Regions from separate parts of the Homo sapiens genome. Here regions 2 and 3 are each linked to region 1. The links come from fine-mapping of genetic effects on gene expression. A gene starts in region 1. Each other region holds a variant in brackets. All regions are shown on one strand. Distances are between the middles of the regions.

The links. PIP is the estimated chance that this variant, and not a neighbour inherited with it, causes the effect. A credible set is the group of variants that fine-mapping cannot tell apart.
Region 2: its variant is the best candidate, but not a certain one, in a credible set for the expression of SMYD2 in tibial nerve (GTEx, PIP 0.87).
Region 3: its variant is the best candidate, but not a certain one, in a credible set for the expression of SMYD2 in thyroid (GTEx, PIP 0.78).

Annotation. Positions count from the first base shown.
Region 1 is chr1:214,278,677-214,283,903 of GRCh38, reverse strand. It overlaps SMYD2 (SET and MYND domain containing 2), which reads right to left and starts at 2,745. Exons shown (of 12, transcript NM_020197.3): 1 at 2,477-2,745. The coding sequence starts at 2,649. It overlaps LOC124904509 (a long non-coding RNA gene), which reads left to right and starts at 2,868. Exons shown (of 2, transcript XR_007066876.1): 1 at 2,868-5,190. RefSeq lists silencers at 2,326-2,485, 2,516-2,635, 2,656-2,945 and an enhancer at 3,225-3,790.
Region 2 is chr1:214,371,996-214,377,222 of GRCh38, reverse strand. PTPN14 (protein tyrosine phosphatase non-receptor type 14) reads left to right here. Exons shown (of 19, transcript NM_005401.5): 15 at 786-1,004; 16 at 4,384-4,512. Among named protein-coding and RNA genes, the nearest start is that of SMYD2, 93 kb to the right of the region's middle. The variant C/A (reference allele first, on the strand shown) is at 2,628.
Region 3 is chr1:214,191,234-214,196,460 of GRCh38, reverse strand. No RefSeq gene overlaps it. Among named protein-coding and RNA genes, the nearest start is that of LINC02775, 82 kb to the right of the region's middle. RefSeq lists an enhancer at 3,072-3,638. The variant A/T (reference allele first, on the strand shown) is at 2,887.

The DNA.
Region 1 (5,227 bases):
TTCAAAAAAAGTTAGATCCTGATACAATTAGTATGACATGGAAATTCTTGGGTCATTCATTTATCTTAAGCAGTATTGTTTATGTTAAACTTCTGGCAAAAGAAAGGATAAGGGGTAGCTTTCTTTTGGGTGTGTGGAGCTGGGGCAGGCAGCAGATTTTGACCTGTAAGTATGAACATTTCCAGAATTCTACTCCTATACTTTGAGGCCCTATGGAGGAAAATACACGTTCCCCTCATACATCTGGACAGACTGATTTGTCCTAAGTCATATACAAATTGCTGACAGAGGAACTGATGCTGAATCTATCAGATGACCTAACCACTAATAGTAAATGATTCAGATTTAATAGAAATCATGAAGTAGGGTACAAGGATATTTCTAATTGCATAAGTATCATGGATATTATTTCTTTTGTATTATTTTAATTGACTTCAAATAATTCTTTGGGGAGAGAGAGGAAATAAACTACGGGTATTGACATAAGGTCAGGGAAATCAAACAGAGAAGTGGTTTGCAAGTTGTAATAACACCCCATTGCAAGTTGCAGCCCTGGTGAGGGACCCAAGGCAACAGTGAGTAACACTAATAAATGTCAATCAGAAAAATTTAACAACAAAAGAGGCAGCAAACTGTCACATATGGCAGAATAATCCAGGCTGAATGCTTTGTGAACTTGCATCTGACCATCCATTAATGTTCTAAGGTTGGGGGTATGCGTAGTAGATACAATTAGGAGACTTAAAGCTAAAGAGAAGCATCTCTCAGTTCTTCTCATCCCTTCTAAATCCAGAGGGATTTGATCTTTCATTCACTGGGGGCCAGGGCTGGCAACTACCCATATAAAGTAAGCACCTACTATGTGCCTGGCATCCATGGTCTTAGGCGATGGCTTCCAGGAATTGCCAGGATCCCTGATGGAGGCTCCTTCTGTGCTGCCTGACCTGCTTTGCTCCTGCCACTGCAGACACCCACGCTGCTGCAGACTCCGAGCCACAGCAAGGCTCAGAAGATCAAGGGACCAGTCACAGCAGCCTTTTTAACTTTGGGAAAACCCAATGCTCACTTCACTCAAACGTTGCAAAGTGGTGCCATGACCCTTTAGCTCTTGGCTCACCAATTCAAAGAGCCACATCACATACAGCCCTTAAGCTGCCCACGGCATGATTCCGTGTCTAGTTCCTTTCCAGGTCCCCCCAAGCGGAAGACAGTTCTGGCAGGGAGTCTGGGCAAGATTACTACAATATTTAGCCTTTGTCCCTTCTTTTGCTACGTCTTATTGTAGAATGAGGCACACAGGTCTGAGAGATTGAGTATGCTGGACTTGAGACCTGTACTCAAAAGGTCCCTGCAGGACCGCAGGTCAGCTTAATCCAGCCCAGGAATCTCCATTTCAAAGATGAAGAAACTGAGGTTCAAAGAAAGCAAATCATGGTCTCTACTCAGAGTACTGGAAGGCCTGATATAAACTTAACCCCAATGCCATGCCTCCTGCCTTAGTAAATTTACTGAGCACCTAACCAGTGAGAAATAGGCAGAAGTGAATAAGGCCAGATTTCACTCCCTTCACTACTGGTGTGAATGGATAAAGGTAACTCCACTTTCTCTCTGGGCTTTAGTTTTCTCATCCATTAAGTGAAAGACAAGACTGAATTGGTGATTTCTAATGTGCCTTTAAGCTCTGAAACTCTCATAAGAGTTGAGGATATAATTATGTGTTGGTGTGTGCAAATGTATATGCATCATATATACAAACACAGACACATATATACATATGGTATCTTACAATTAAATACCATTAGCAACCACACATCTTGCCCAATCCCTTCCTGCGACCATGTTTTCCTAATCCCAAACCGAAACTGGACACTGCAACTCATCGTCGCAGCACCTCAGAATCCAGGGGGTGTGGTCAGTGCCCACTGGCGTCCCTCCAAACACCCATGTAAGCGTACTTTAACATGTAAGCGTACTTTACAAGACATATACTAAGTCATTAAATTCCTTGGAAGAAACGGCCAATCTGAGGCAGGGCTGGACTGTGGGTAACAGAACACACCGCAGGAAGCATAAGTTAAAGGTGACAGCCCGTGGCTGCCCAAATTTGGGGCTCCGCTGCCAATGCACCGGGAGGGCAGTGAGTGCCCAGGCTTGGAACAAGCCTGGCTCGGAGCCCACATTTGAGGGCAGGAACCTGCACGCCCGGGTTTGCGCATCCAGCGTGAGCAACTCTGAAAACGTGCAGTGCAGGGCGTGCAGCGGGGCACCGGTCCTGTTTCCTCTCGCACGTGGCGCCTGGCGTGGGGCTGCAGCGCGGGGCCGCAGCGCGGGGCCTCCTCCCCTCCCCGCCCCCCACCCCGCCCCAAGGGCCGGCGCTAGGACCCCGCGAGCCGCACGCACTTCCTGGCGCCGCCGTCCAAGCCTCCCGCTCGGCGCCCCCGGCTCCCGCCCGCCGCCGCCGCCGCCGCCGCCCTACCTGGTGAAGCAGTACTCGCAGTGGTTGCCCCGCTCGTTGACCGTGAGCACGTAGGCATAGGCCGGGCAGGAGAACAGCAAGTCCCCCACCTGGAAGGGCTGCAGAGCCCGCAGCCCCCGGCCTTTGCCCGGGCTGCAGAAGCGCTCCAGGCCGCCGAGGCCCTCGGCCCTCATGGTGGCGGCGGGGCGCGGCCGCCGGCTGTGCCCGAGCTGCGGCTCCCGGCGAGCTGTTATTGGAGACGCGTCACCTAGAGCTGCGGGGGGCGGGGTGGGAGCCGCCCGGCGGACGCGGCGGCGGCTCCCCGCTCCCCGGAAGGGAGGGCGGCCCCGCCCGGGCCTCGCGCGCCCCCGCGGGGAGGGGGACGGGCCCGGCGGCCCCGCCTAGCGCCGCGACCCTCGGCGGCCGCCCCGCGCGCGCTCCGGGCCGTTTCCGGTGTGGCCGCGACAAAGAGCCGCAGCCCCTGTGGCTTCTGCGAGGAGGCGTGAGGCGTGTGCGCCTCCGCGGCGTCTCCACGGAGCGAGCGGGACGCGCCCTCCTCCTCGGTGGGAGGGAGGGGGGTCACCTGCGGGGACCAGGTATCCGAGGGCCACCCCTAGACAGTCAGCCTGGCCCGAAGGATGACCAGCCCCCGGTAAATAGAAGGGGGCGAAGCCAGCTCCGAAACCTTACGTTCGCTGTCCCTTGTAAAGACCCTAGAGGCAGTGATCGGGGAACGCCAAGGAGAAAGCGGCAGAGGGGAAACCACAGTAGAGAAGTTTGGTGTGCAGAGGGTTGAAGTGTGCTTTTCCAAGGTTAGAGGTTTTTAAACCTTGTGGCTTTAATGGGAACGTAGTTTGCCCTCTGCTCCTCTAGTGGAATTACATGGACGGAAGAGGAAATGCATTGGCCGGCCCAGCTCACCGAGTCTCTGAGGCATGCTGCGAACGTTGCAGAGGAAGCCAGAGAGAACCTTGCCTTCAAGGAATTTAGGCTGTTGGGGGATAATGCGATGCTGTGGCCAGTGTCCAGGACACTGCGCTAGAGTTTGCAGTAGTTTTAATATGCTTGACCACCCACGAACTGTGATCTTAGAAAAGTCACTTGGGTTAGGAGTCAAAGGATTTAAAGCCCACAAAGCCTGAAACGTAAATCCTATACACATGCACGCTATTACTTTTCATATGAGAAAGGAAAATATAATCCGTGTTCCACATGATTATGTAAAGACTGGAATTGATGTACATGCAGTAAAGACTAAAATTGTGACGAGATCATTTAGCAGAAACCACTACTTCAAAATAGGACCTCAAACAGTTACCTGTGTAAGTTCAGGACTGGTTGAGCAAAGGGAAAGGATTAATATGATTGGAGATGTAAAATCAGTGGAATTTTTGGCATTTCAGTAAAATGTCTTTATCAGCTGGGTGTGGTGGCTCAGCCCTGTAATCCCAACACTGTGGGAGGCCAAGGTGGGAGGATCATTTGAGCCCAGGAATTGGAGAGTTGGAGACCAGCTTGGGCAACATAAAGACCCCGTCTCTATGGGAAATTAACCACCTCTCAAGTGGTGCTGAGGTGGGAGGATAGCTTGAGCCTGGGAAGTCAAGGTTGCAGTGAGCTGTGGTGACTCCATTATACTCCAGCCTGGGTGACAGAGCAGGACCTTGTCTCAAAAGAAAACAAAAAAGCCCTTATTAGTGGCAAACTAAATAAGCCTCTAACCCGTCTTCAAGTAAAGGAAGTTATGATAGTATTTTCATTTATGCATTTTAAGAAACTTCGACTGACTATGGCCAGCAACTGGGATAGAAAGATGGACATCAGCCGGCTGTGGTGGCTCACGCCTGTAATCCCAGCACTTTGGGAGGCCGAGGTAGGCGGATCACCTGAGGTCGAGAGTTCAAGACCAGCCTGACCAACATGGAGAAACCTCATCTCTACTAAAAATACAAAATTAGCCAGGTGTGGTGGTGCATGCCTGTAATCCCAGCTACTCGGGAGGCTGAGGCAGGAGAATCGCTTGAACCTGGGAGGTGGAGGTTGCTGTGAGCCAAAATCGCACCATTGCACTCCAGCCTGCGCAAGAAGAGCGAAACTCTGTCTCAAAAAAAAAAAAAAAAAAAAAGTGGACAAAATGTAGTCCTAGGTCCTTGCATTTGGCACATTCAAGTTTGATAATACCATTAGTTATTGAGTATTGTTGACCAGGCATCGTGCTCCATCATTAAACACATTATCTGGTTTATCTTTACAACAGGCTAATGAGTTAGGTATTATGCCCCTCATTGCCAAAATTAGGAAGGAAACTAAGACCCAGAAGGAATGATTTTCAAGGCCACACAATAAATTGCAGAATTTGGTTTCCAAGTCAGTCTGAATTCAAGGTCCATGTTCCTAACCACAGTGTTTTGCTGCAAACAAACACAGTTCACTGGGATAAGTGCAGTTATGGTGGCTTGTACAAAATGTTCTGTGGTAGTACAGGCAGGGAGTGACAGCTTTAGCCTGCTAAACAGTCAAGACAGGCATCACATTCAAGTAACGTTAGAGCTGAGCCTGAAGGATGGACAGGATTTTGCAAGTGGAGGTGGGGAGAAGAGTTTTCTGGGCAGAGAGAACTGCGTACAAAGACAGAAGACCCTGAAAGCACAGAGCTTGTAGTTGGGGGCCCCTGAGCATCTGGAAGAGAGGACAGGAAATGAGGCAGGAACAGCTGAAGAGCATCTTCTCCAGAGGTGAGTTCTGCCCCAGAGGCCATGGGAGAGCCAGTTA
Region 2 (5,227 bases), 93 kb before region 1:
CCGCAAAAGACATGACCTTGTATCCAAGCATTTATAGAGTTCTTTAAAAATGCTGTCCCCTCGTATGACCATAAAATGAGGCTGATTTATAATTGTCTGGATAATGCATTGTGACAACATGGGTTTTGAAAAGCAGAAAGCAGCTGCATGGTAGTGTTTCAGAAGCGAAGAAAGGTGGATCCTTAGTTCCCGAAATTGCTGTCAGAAGGTTAAGAAACAGGTTGTATAAATGTAATAAAGTACTAATAACACCAGGGTGTTCGATTTCTGCCAGTATGTATCCAGAATTAGAATGTTTTTAAAGCCAGAAGGGACTTCAGAGAAATCATTTAACCCAATTAATACCATGTTATTGGAATTAGTAGTTTGGCCAGGAAGGAGGAAAAAAGAGAGTGATTTAATCCTCAGAGCTATAGAACTGTGGACCAGTATCATCTTAAAAACAGCTATATAGGTGGAGGAAAGGATGTTTGGATAATTAAGATTAACAGTCTCTTTATCATTAGGACTTTAAACAGAGTTGTTAATAGCAAAAATATTGATTTTTGAATTTCAACTCTTGCTAGTTCTTGCAGATTTGTTCTACTTATAATATGAGTAAGAAGGAAAATGGTTATTAGACAAGGGAAAATATCAATATGGTTGATAATGAGACAAACCAAGCATTGATTGTAGAACTTGAAATCTCTTTTAACACAATCGCTAAATATTTAAAGAAATTTGGTTGTTTCATTGAGTTTTTGGATCAGATAATTTAGAGAGCTGAAGATCAATTTCTGTTGCAGTTCAGAACCCTGAAGAAGAAACTAGAAGAGGGAATGGTGTTCACAGAATATGAGCAAATTCCAAAGAAAAAGGCGAATGGCATTTTCAGCACAGCAGCTCTGCCAGAAAACGCCGAGCGCAGCCGAATCCGTGAAGTTGTCCCCTATGAGGAGAATCGAGTAGAGCTGATACCAACCAAAGAAAATAACACAGGATACATTAATGCCTCCCACATCAAGGTAAGAAGGCAAGCCTGTTAGAAGGTTTGGTAAAGATGGCTGGGTTAAAGGGAAAAATGCGGGGAGAAGAAAATGTGTGGGCTGCAGTTGTACCTTTTGGCTTGTCCCCAGACCCTCAGGGATTGTTTTTGAACTCCTGTGCTTTTCTTAGTCAAGTGGAAGGGCATGTCTATCACTGCAGAGAGAAGGAAGTCTAGCAGCCTCAGGAAGAACTTCAGGTCAGCGATTTCTGAAGCTCGCTCATTACAGAGGCTTTAACTTTTCCTTCTCTCTGTGGGCTGTAACTCTCTCTATACTCAGATTATCCTTTTCAGTTTGTAATTAGCAGGTGCTGGAGACTTTGGAAGTTACAGGTATTGCGTTACTGACATAAAAGTGTCATGTTCAATAACAATAGAAACTATTGTTTTTCCCTTATAATACTGCAGGTTATGCATTTTATAAAAGCGCGAGTCCTATTATTGCATGGTATTTAGAAGAGTGGAGTAATTTTCACCTACACTATAAAAGTGTGGTTAATATTGAATCTTGAAAGATTTGCCACATTAGTCAATGAATTTGTGTTACTAAATTTTTGTTGTTATTTCAAATACTTCAAACCTTTATATGTCAGTATTACATAGTTTAGCACTTCTGCAGTTAAAACTTTGACTTATGGATACATGTGTACCTGTAGTTAAATGTTTCTTAAATAGCTTACCTTCCTCAGAGTCCCTGTTAACAGAGGGACACTTATTTAGAATGTCACCATTTGCTCTGAACTCTGAAGTGGGAGATTTGTTCATCTATTAATGTTAAAGCCAGTGTTATAGGTGTTGTTAAATAACACAAGGTTCAATTGATAGTCCACTGTGATCAATAGCCTTAGAAACCTGTTTTCGGCCTTGTCTAGAATTACTTACTTTCCTCATTGGACTTTTCAACTGTAGCAGAATTATTAACAGGTTTTTTTAAGCCTGTAAAAGGCGAGTTAGATATCTAGCTTGTGTATCAATTATAACTAGTTTTGATACAGAATGGGAAAAGTATAGTATGGTTGGGTATATACTATTTTTATTAATATACACAGATAACCATAGTTTTTAATAATTAGAAAGTACTGTCAAAAGAAATATAAAAGAGTAACTATCATAGATCATATTACTAATTTTAACTTGGATTTTTGAGAGTGAGAAGTAAAAAGTGAACTCTAGGAAACTCTTAAATAAACTGTCAGTGGTGGGTTTCATGGGCTTAGTTTACATTATGAAACAATGACCAAAGTAATGTATTCCAACAAAGATGCAGATCACACAGCTGCTTCCTGATAGAGTGTCTATGAAAATCTTACATAGAAATATTATATTATCTTCTTCTTTTGGCCAGATCTCTTCCACTATTTTCCATCTGCTCTCTGAAAAAAGCTGTCACTTTGTATAAACTGTGCCCATCGGGCATTGTTAACCGAGGAGCATTCCCTTCCTTGGTATTCTCTGTGGCCCACATTTCATCCTGTGGATCCGGGTTAGACATGGGTGCATTTCATAGACCCGTGGACCTTGCAAGAACTTGTCCCTGTGTTTTGGAATAGAGGAGTATATTTTGCCAGTGTTTTCCCCCCTGGGTTCCAAGCAGCCGTTAACA[C/A]AGAACAGAGATTTATTTGCTCCAGAGGTGGAATCACATGTGTGAAATCTACCTCAGCAGCACTGCTTGTTGTGTTTTTAATGCAGTTTTTAATACCCTTCTGTCAATACTTGGAATATACTGAAAGGCCCCAGGCAGCAGCAGCATTCTCTGGAAGTATTTATGTTTCCTATACGTTGGGTGCCAGAGAGGCTAATGTTTAAAATCACAATTCCACGGATAAACCAAACTCCTAGCCAGCAAATATATGAATGTTATCTCCCACCAGTATTTGGAAAATGGATTTTTCTTGCCAGCTTTGACCTAAACATGCCTTGTGTAATGAGACAATAACTTACATTGTTTTTGTTTGAACCAAGTTAGCATACAGTTTTATCAAATAAATGAGGGGAAAAAGTTTCAAACAATGATTACTTCATTACTTTTTGAACTCTCCAGAGATCTGCATTGTATAGATGTAGAAGGGACCTGACTTTGCAATATCAAGGCACAGACCTGGAAGGGAGAACAGAAAGAATTCCTCCAAAGGCCACCATTTCACCTTGACAGCATGACCTTTAACACTTTGGGTACAACTTCTTATTTATGGTTCTCAGCAGCTAGTATTTATAGCTGTAGAATTATCTTCCCCTGATCACCCTGAGCTGCAGGGGTAATAATTTTATTATCCAAAGTCATGTCATGACTGTAGTTCAGTTGGATGCTGTGGTACTACCAAGGTGAAGCTATTGATAAAATATATGCTGTTGACAAGAGCATTCGTAGCATCTCTGCCGTGCATGGCACCACAGAGCAGCAGTGACAGCAGAGGTTTATGATACACTTCATCTCAGATCCACAGGAGAAAGATAGTGCTCCAAAAGGGATGTTGTTTCATGATCTTTTTTTTTTTTTTTATTGTTTAATTGGATGCCATGAAGCACTGCTTTTCAAACTGGATTACAACACAGTGGTAGAATGTGAAATCAGTTTAGTGGTCATGACCAGGTGTGTGTGTGTGTGTGTGTGTGTGTGTGTGTGTGTGTGTGTGTGTGTGTTTCAATGAAATCGACTAGAAAAGAGAAAAGAATGGAAAGTGTTAGAGTACATTGCACATAGTAAGCAGTAACTATTATTTCTGTAACAAGTAAATCCTAAGTTATACATGTTCATATATATGCATCTATACATGTGTGTATGTGTATGGTTTTTAATAGGCACTAGTTTGCATATACTGTGAGTTGCAAACAAAGATCAGGTAAAGGCCAAGCCTGGTGGCTCAGGCCTGTAATCCCAGCACTTTGGGAGGCTGAGATGGGCGTATCACCTGAAGTCAGGAGTTCAAGACCAGCCTGGCCAATGTGGTGAAACGCCATCTCTACAAAAATACAAAAATTAGCCGGGCATGATGGCGAGTGCCTGTAATCCCAGCTCCTTGGGATTCTGAGACGGGAGAATTGCTTGAACCCAGGAGGCGGAGGTTGCAGTGAGCCAAGATCGTGCCACTGTACTCCCGCCTAAGCAGCAGAGCAAGACTCAGTCTCAAAAACCAGGATTAGATAAATATTTAATAGGCTTGAGTGGCAAAAAGTATTTTCATGTGAGAATGTGTCACTACACTAGCCTCTGTAGTCTCAGGGTTTTTGTTCATTGAACTAATTCATTCGGCCCCAAAAATATATCCAAGGTTTTAAGGTGGATACAGATGGACAGGTGATCAGCAGGTAATGTTGTCCGGACTTGGGGTTTATTTACCGATACTTTTCTTGGTTTTTAGGTGGTGGTTGGCGGGGCAGAATGGCACTACATAGCCACCCAGGGGCCCCTGCCACACACGTGCCACGACTTCTGGCAGATGGTGTGGGAGCAGGGAGTGAATGTGATTGCCATGGTCACTGCAGAGGAGGTAAGGGGAATGGCCTACTCCACATCCTTTTTCCCCAGGGGAAAGGGTGGCCAGAAGATGGGCTTTGTGCTGTCAACTTTGCTACCCTATCCTTCTTCCTGCAGTGCTGTTTCTCTGCACATGCTTTTCTCTTTGGTATACATCTGTTTTCTTACTTCCAGATAGATATTTTTTCCCCTGGAGATAATTGATTGTTGTAGCTTTTCCTCCTCCCATTTTCATCTGGCTTTTAACTCTTTTCCTTGGATTGTAATGCACTAAACTGAAAATAAAACAACAGAAAACCAAAAATGACAGACTTTAGTTCAACCTGCTGACTTTCTGTGCCAAACGAAAACAGTGATCTTTCCACTGGAATTTGGGAGTCTCAGGCTGCTCTGGGCAAATCGACATAGACGCCCAACTCCAGGCACCCAGCTCCACATGCCATCATCCTTATCAGCTGAAAAGAGACCAGAAGCCGTTGTTCCTGGAGAGTCCTCTGTTCTTTGGGGGAAGAAAAAATATCTTTTTCTTCTTTTGCCAAGCCAAACATAGTTTTTCTGCTGTAACTAGAGAACTCTATGTGATGTTATAAAAAACCAGCCTACACTGCCAGTCAATCCAGTCGGTGTTGAGCTTGCTGTCTTTGTGGGGAGAAGTGTTGTATTTCTTCTCTTGTCACATTCTCAAAATTTCTTTAACCACCTTCTTTTATTTCTTTCATTAAATTCCA
Region 3 (5,227 bases), 87 kb after region 1:
CTTGAAGTAGGAGGTCACATTTTTGCCAGTACTCATTGCAACTTGAACTGAGGGAAGCTCAAGTGCAAATTTGGAACCCACAACCTTGAGTGAGTTATAATGCTGGTAAAATCTATTCTCCCTGTAAACTCATTCAGAGGCAATGCTTGGGACTGTATGGACATCACAGAAAAATATGTGTTCTAGGGGAGGAAGGAATTGTTAGGCTAGTCAAGATGTGTCCAGTGGGTCAGGTCATGGGCAGAACTCAGTCCCTGCTGTGACATTCTGGGAAAGATGAGAAGTGGAATTCCAAGGTAGTGAACCCCATGTGCCAACTAGGGAAAGGGGTAAAACATCAGTGGTTGTGGACAAGGTGAATGAGTTTTGTGGACTGAGCTGTCAATGAATTCTCCACAGTGAACACTCACTATATGTATTTGTTCAATAAGCAGACACAGTGAACAAAGATTGCACAAATACTGGAAATATGGTAGTAAGCAAGGCAGAAGGGTCTCTCCTGTCAAAGATAAGCAAAGCTGGGCACTGGTTAAAGTGGTAAGGACAGATTTTAATCAGTAATAACTATCGTGATAGGGAAAAAGTACAGCATGAACTGAACTGAACTTCAATTTGTACATTGGCAATTGGGAGTCTTAAAGGTAGAATGAGGGAAAGGGAGAGGGGTGAGCAAGGGCTTAGTACAATCAGGGAAATGGATAAATACAAAAAGTGGGAAGGAAGGGTTGGTCCATGAAAAACCCATCTGTTTTTTTGCTAACTTGTGCTGAATGAAGTTAAGCTCCCACCTTCCCACAGAAACTGGAAGACAGCACTTTATCTTCATGTGTTAGCTGGAACCAACAGTGAATTCTTTCAGCAGCCTTAAGTTTTCTCAAGCTGGCACTTTCAAGGGGACTAGGGTCATCCCAGGGTTATGTCCTTGAGCTGTCAGAAACTGTGTTAGTGCATGATCATAGTCTTTATCAGCCAAGGTTGAGCCTCGTCAATAAGAGGGCTCAGATCATGGGCAAATCTATTCTGGAGGGCTGGAGTTTGGTCAAGAAGAGAGACTTCTCATTTCCCTTGTGAAACATCATTCTCTCCAGAAATTACAGGGTAACACTATTTTTTTTTTTTTTGAGACAGGGTCTCACTCTGTTGTTCACGCTGGAGTGCAGTGGCACAATCTCAGCTCACTGCAGCCTCAACCTCCCAGTTCAAGTGATCCTCCTACCTCAGCCTCCTGAGTTGCTGGGACCACAGGCATGGCCACCACCATGTCCTGTGGCTAATTTTTATATTTTTTGTAGAGACAGAGTTTTGACATGTTGCACAGGCTGGTCTTGAACTTGTGGGTTCAAGCAATCTAGCTGCCTTGGCCTTCCAAAGTGCTGGATTACAGGTGTGCACCACCAGGCCTAGCTGAGAGTTATGCTTTAATGAAATGTCTGATGAAATCTTTTCATCAGTATCTCTTTATGGTAGAGTGCTCGTTTTGTACTTTAGATGTTCCTAGCAGGATTGGTAAAGAGGAAACTTGTCAACTTTCCATGAAATTAGTTAATGTGGGAAATTCATGCAAGAACCACACTGAGTCAGGTGTAACATGTAAATGAGATCCTCCCATTTTGGGCACGCTTGTTTCACTGTGCTCAAAACGTCTGCTAAGATTCTCAATAGTCCACTTTTCACTGGGCATCCCAGAATGATCTATGTAGGTCATGTTCTTGATGTATGTCGTATTCTGAAGGTCTGAACTCTTCAAAATCAATGATTCAGATAAGTCATTTCAAACACATGCACACATTTCCCCCCAGATTTTAATTTTGACAAGATGACTTGAATAGTTTCAGAACCAACTGCGGCCCTATCTGGAGATAATTTCTGACTTCAGTCTCCAAGCACTACCTTCCTACCATTTTTGTATTTTCAAAGTGGGAAACTCGTAATGTCAGGACACAATAAAATATGAGCAAAAGTGGAACCTGAGTTCTGATTTCATCTCAGTCACACTTTCTCTAAGATACAGGAGAAGTCAACACTTTGGGGTATTAATTTCCTACTCAATTCAGTGGTACGAGTGCAATGAGATGTTCCCAGATGGAAGGGCACTGTGAAGACCAGAACATGCTATGCACCTGCTAGTTTCCATGGACTTCGTAAGCAGTTTCCATGGACTTCGTAAGCGTGCATTGAGCCTGAAGGACACAGCACTGGATTAGGTACTGTGGGTGACGCAAACTATGTAGAAGACTTGATTCCTATCCTTAAGATACTGACAATCAATTTGGGTTGATGATATAAAGAATTAAAAGTGAAAAAGAGTGATACTACAATTTTTGTTGTTGTTTTGTGTTTATTTTAGGGGAAGGAGTTGAAAGGAGCATTAATACTCTTTTTTTTTCTTTTGTCGTAAGCCCTATATCAGAGTGGCTAGAAAACATACTTATATTTAATATGCATTATGATTGATTAGTACACAGGATGCAAAGTTAAGTAGTGATCTGACCACATACACAAGGAGATCCAGACATATCCTTCTCTGCTGCAGTGTGTGATGATGATCAGGGGGCCATGTGGTGTCTGTCTCCACGGGGCCTTTTGCCCGGAACGATGACGACTGATAGGCTCTCACTGGGGAATGTTACCATTCAGAAGGGCCTTTTCTTCTTCTAAGAGAGGCATTAGATACTCAAAGTGGATCAAAATCTCATTTCTTCCTCATCTTCGGCTAAAAGGTTCACTTATTTGTCAATTTAAAAGCAACTGGGGTTCAAAGTCCTGTTAGTTCACAGTCCTTGACTTCTTGTCTGTTCTGGCCCCTTATCAATACTCTTCAGAGGGGGCTGTGGCAATACAAAAGGAGCAAAGAGCTATTGTGTGCATCTTACAGAGGTCCTTGGC[A/T]TTCCACACCGGGCATGCCAGGTCGTCTCCTTTCCACCCCGTTGCCCTCACATGAAGCAGTGGTTGAGGACTGAGTCTGCAGCGAGTGCAAAGCAGTGAAGCAGTCGGGACACAGTGTTCCTGCGGTCTGCTTTCCTCTAGTGTGAAAATTACGCTGCATCCCTCTGGGAGAAGCATTTGCAGCCTAGGAAGGGGGTGGTGCTCATAATAAAAACTCGCTGAGAAGCCAAAATCCTAGGCCTGATTTTCCTTTGGTTTGAAATGCATACTGTTGCAAGGGCAAGTGACCTTCTGTTATTGACGAAATACCTTGAACATTTCTTTCACAGTCTGTTGCTGCCATGCCTGACCGAGCAAATCCTGCTTAATTCCTCTGCTCCCTAGAGGAATGCCTCAGGACCACACTGGAAAAAGTGAATGATCGATTAATGATGAAATTGGCCAACTTGCCAATAACGATAAATTGCTTTGTTCATCCCACAGCAAGGATGCCAGCTCAGTGTGTTGCCTGTGCCTAGAGACAAAGGATGGGAACTCTGGTCAAAATTAACATAGATGAGCTTTCAGACCTATACTGAGCACAATGACAACAATGAGTGACTCACATGTCTGTCTCGTTTTTGACCAACTTAAAATGTTTCACACAGCCTTATGATCAGATATTTATATTTGCAGAAGAAATACAATGGTAGCAGTCAAAATTTGGTTACAGCAGGCTTCTTTCTCTTTTATTTGGGTGGATGTGAGTGTCGTGGATGAACATGCAAATTTTAATGTGTATAAAACTCTCTGAAGACAACAAAACCACTAGAAGATCCACTAGGAATCTGCAGTCCCCTTGAGAAAATAAAATCTGCACATGAAACAACATAAAAATAAATACAAAACGACATGTCAACAAGGACAAATTACCAAACAGTCACTGTTTTTATTTAGTATTTTTGAAATCATGGAATGAATTTTTTTTAATTTAAGGGTAATAATTACCCTATACAATATTTTAGAAATAAATAAATCTAATAAATAAAGATGAAAATAACTACTAGCAGCAATCTACCCCCCAGGAAAAAGAAAAGAAACCATTTGTGGATAATGATAAGGGAGAACAAAATTTTAAAATAAAAAAAGAAAAGCAATCACTTGACATTTTAAAGTAATTATTTCTGGGCTTTAAAACAATGTTGTAACTTTATTCATGGAAGAGTGCTTTACCATAATCTCTTTATCTTTTTTTAAAAAAAATTAATTGTGGTAAAATAGGCATCATATAAAATTTACCATCTTAACCATATTTAAGTGTACAATTCAGCAGTGTGAAGTATATTCACATTGTTGTACAACTAATTCTGGTCTTTTTAAAAAGACATATACTCATTGATATGGTAGATTTTAAAATTATATTTATTGTTGCAAGTAACATTTTTTCCTAGTATCAAAAATAACCCATGTTCAGTACAGAAAACTTAAAAAATACCATTCATCTAATCCTAAGAAAGAAATAATGGTAAATTTTACTGGTTTGCCTTCCAGCATCTTTCTTTGTGAGTACATGTATAGATCTAGGTCTGTATGTATACATCATTAATATTTGCATCTATAAAGACAAAATTACATCAAAGATATCACATGCCTTTTCCTTTAGCACTATTTTGTGAATTATCTTATGAAAATAAATAAGCCTGTGTATATAGTTTTCTTTTCCTTCTTCTTTTTTTTCAGAGACAGGGTCTTGTTCTGTCACCCAGGCTAGAGTGCAGCAGGGCAATGATAGCTTACTAAAACTTAGAACTCCTGGGTTCAAGCAAAAAAACTTAGAATCCCCAGGCTCAAGTGATCCTTCCTCCTTGGCCTCCCAAGTAGCTAGGATTACAAGTGCACACCACCACGCTTGGCTAATTTTTAAAATTTGTTTGTAGGGACAGAGTCTCGCTATGTTGCCCAGGCTGGTCTCAAACTCCTGGCCTCAGCGATCCTCCCACCTTGGCCTCCCAAAGCACTGGAACTACGGGCTTGAGCCACCACACTCAGCCTTGTGTATATAGTTTTGTTGCCTGATTTTTATTCTCCCATTTTCCACTTTAGTATGAGCATTTTGTGGTTACTATATATGAGAAGGCCAGAGTAATTTAAAGTAAAGGGAGGAAGTGAATTTATGATGAGAAAGCTTTCTGGAGAAGGCCCTGAAGCCCCCTCATCCACTGCCCACCTGCTGGCTACCTCCCAGGCACTTGGGCCTCTGATGCACTTAACAGGCTACAGGCTGGATTCACTTTCTACCATAGGCATGGGTCAAGGGCAAATTCCGTCGGTTTTAGTGCAGTGGGTCCACTCAACTGTTGAA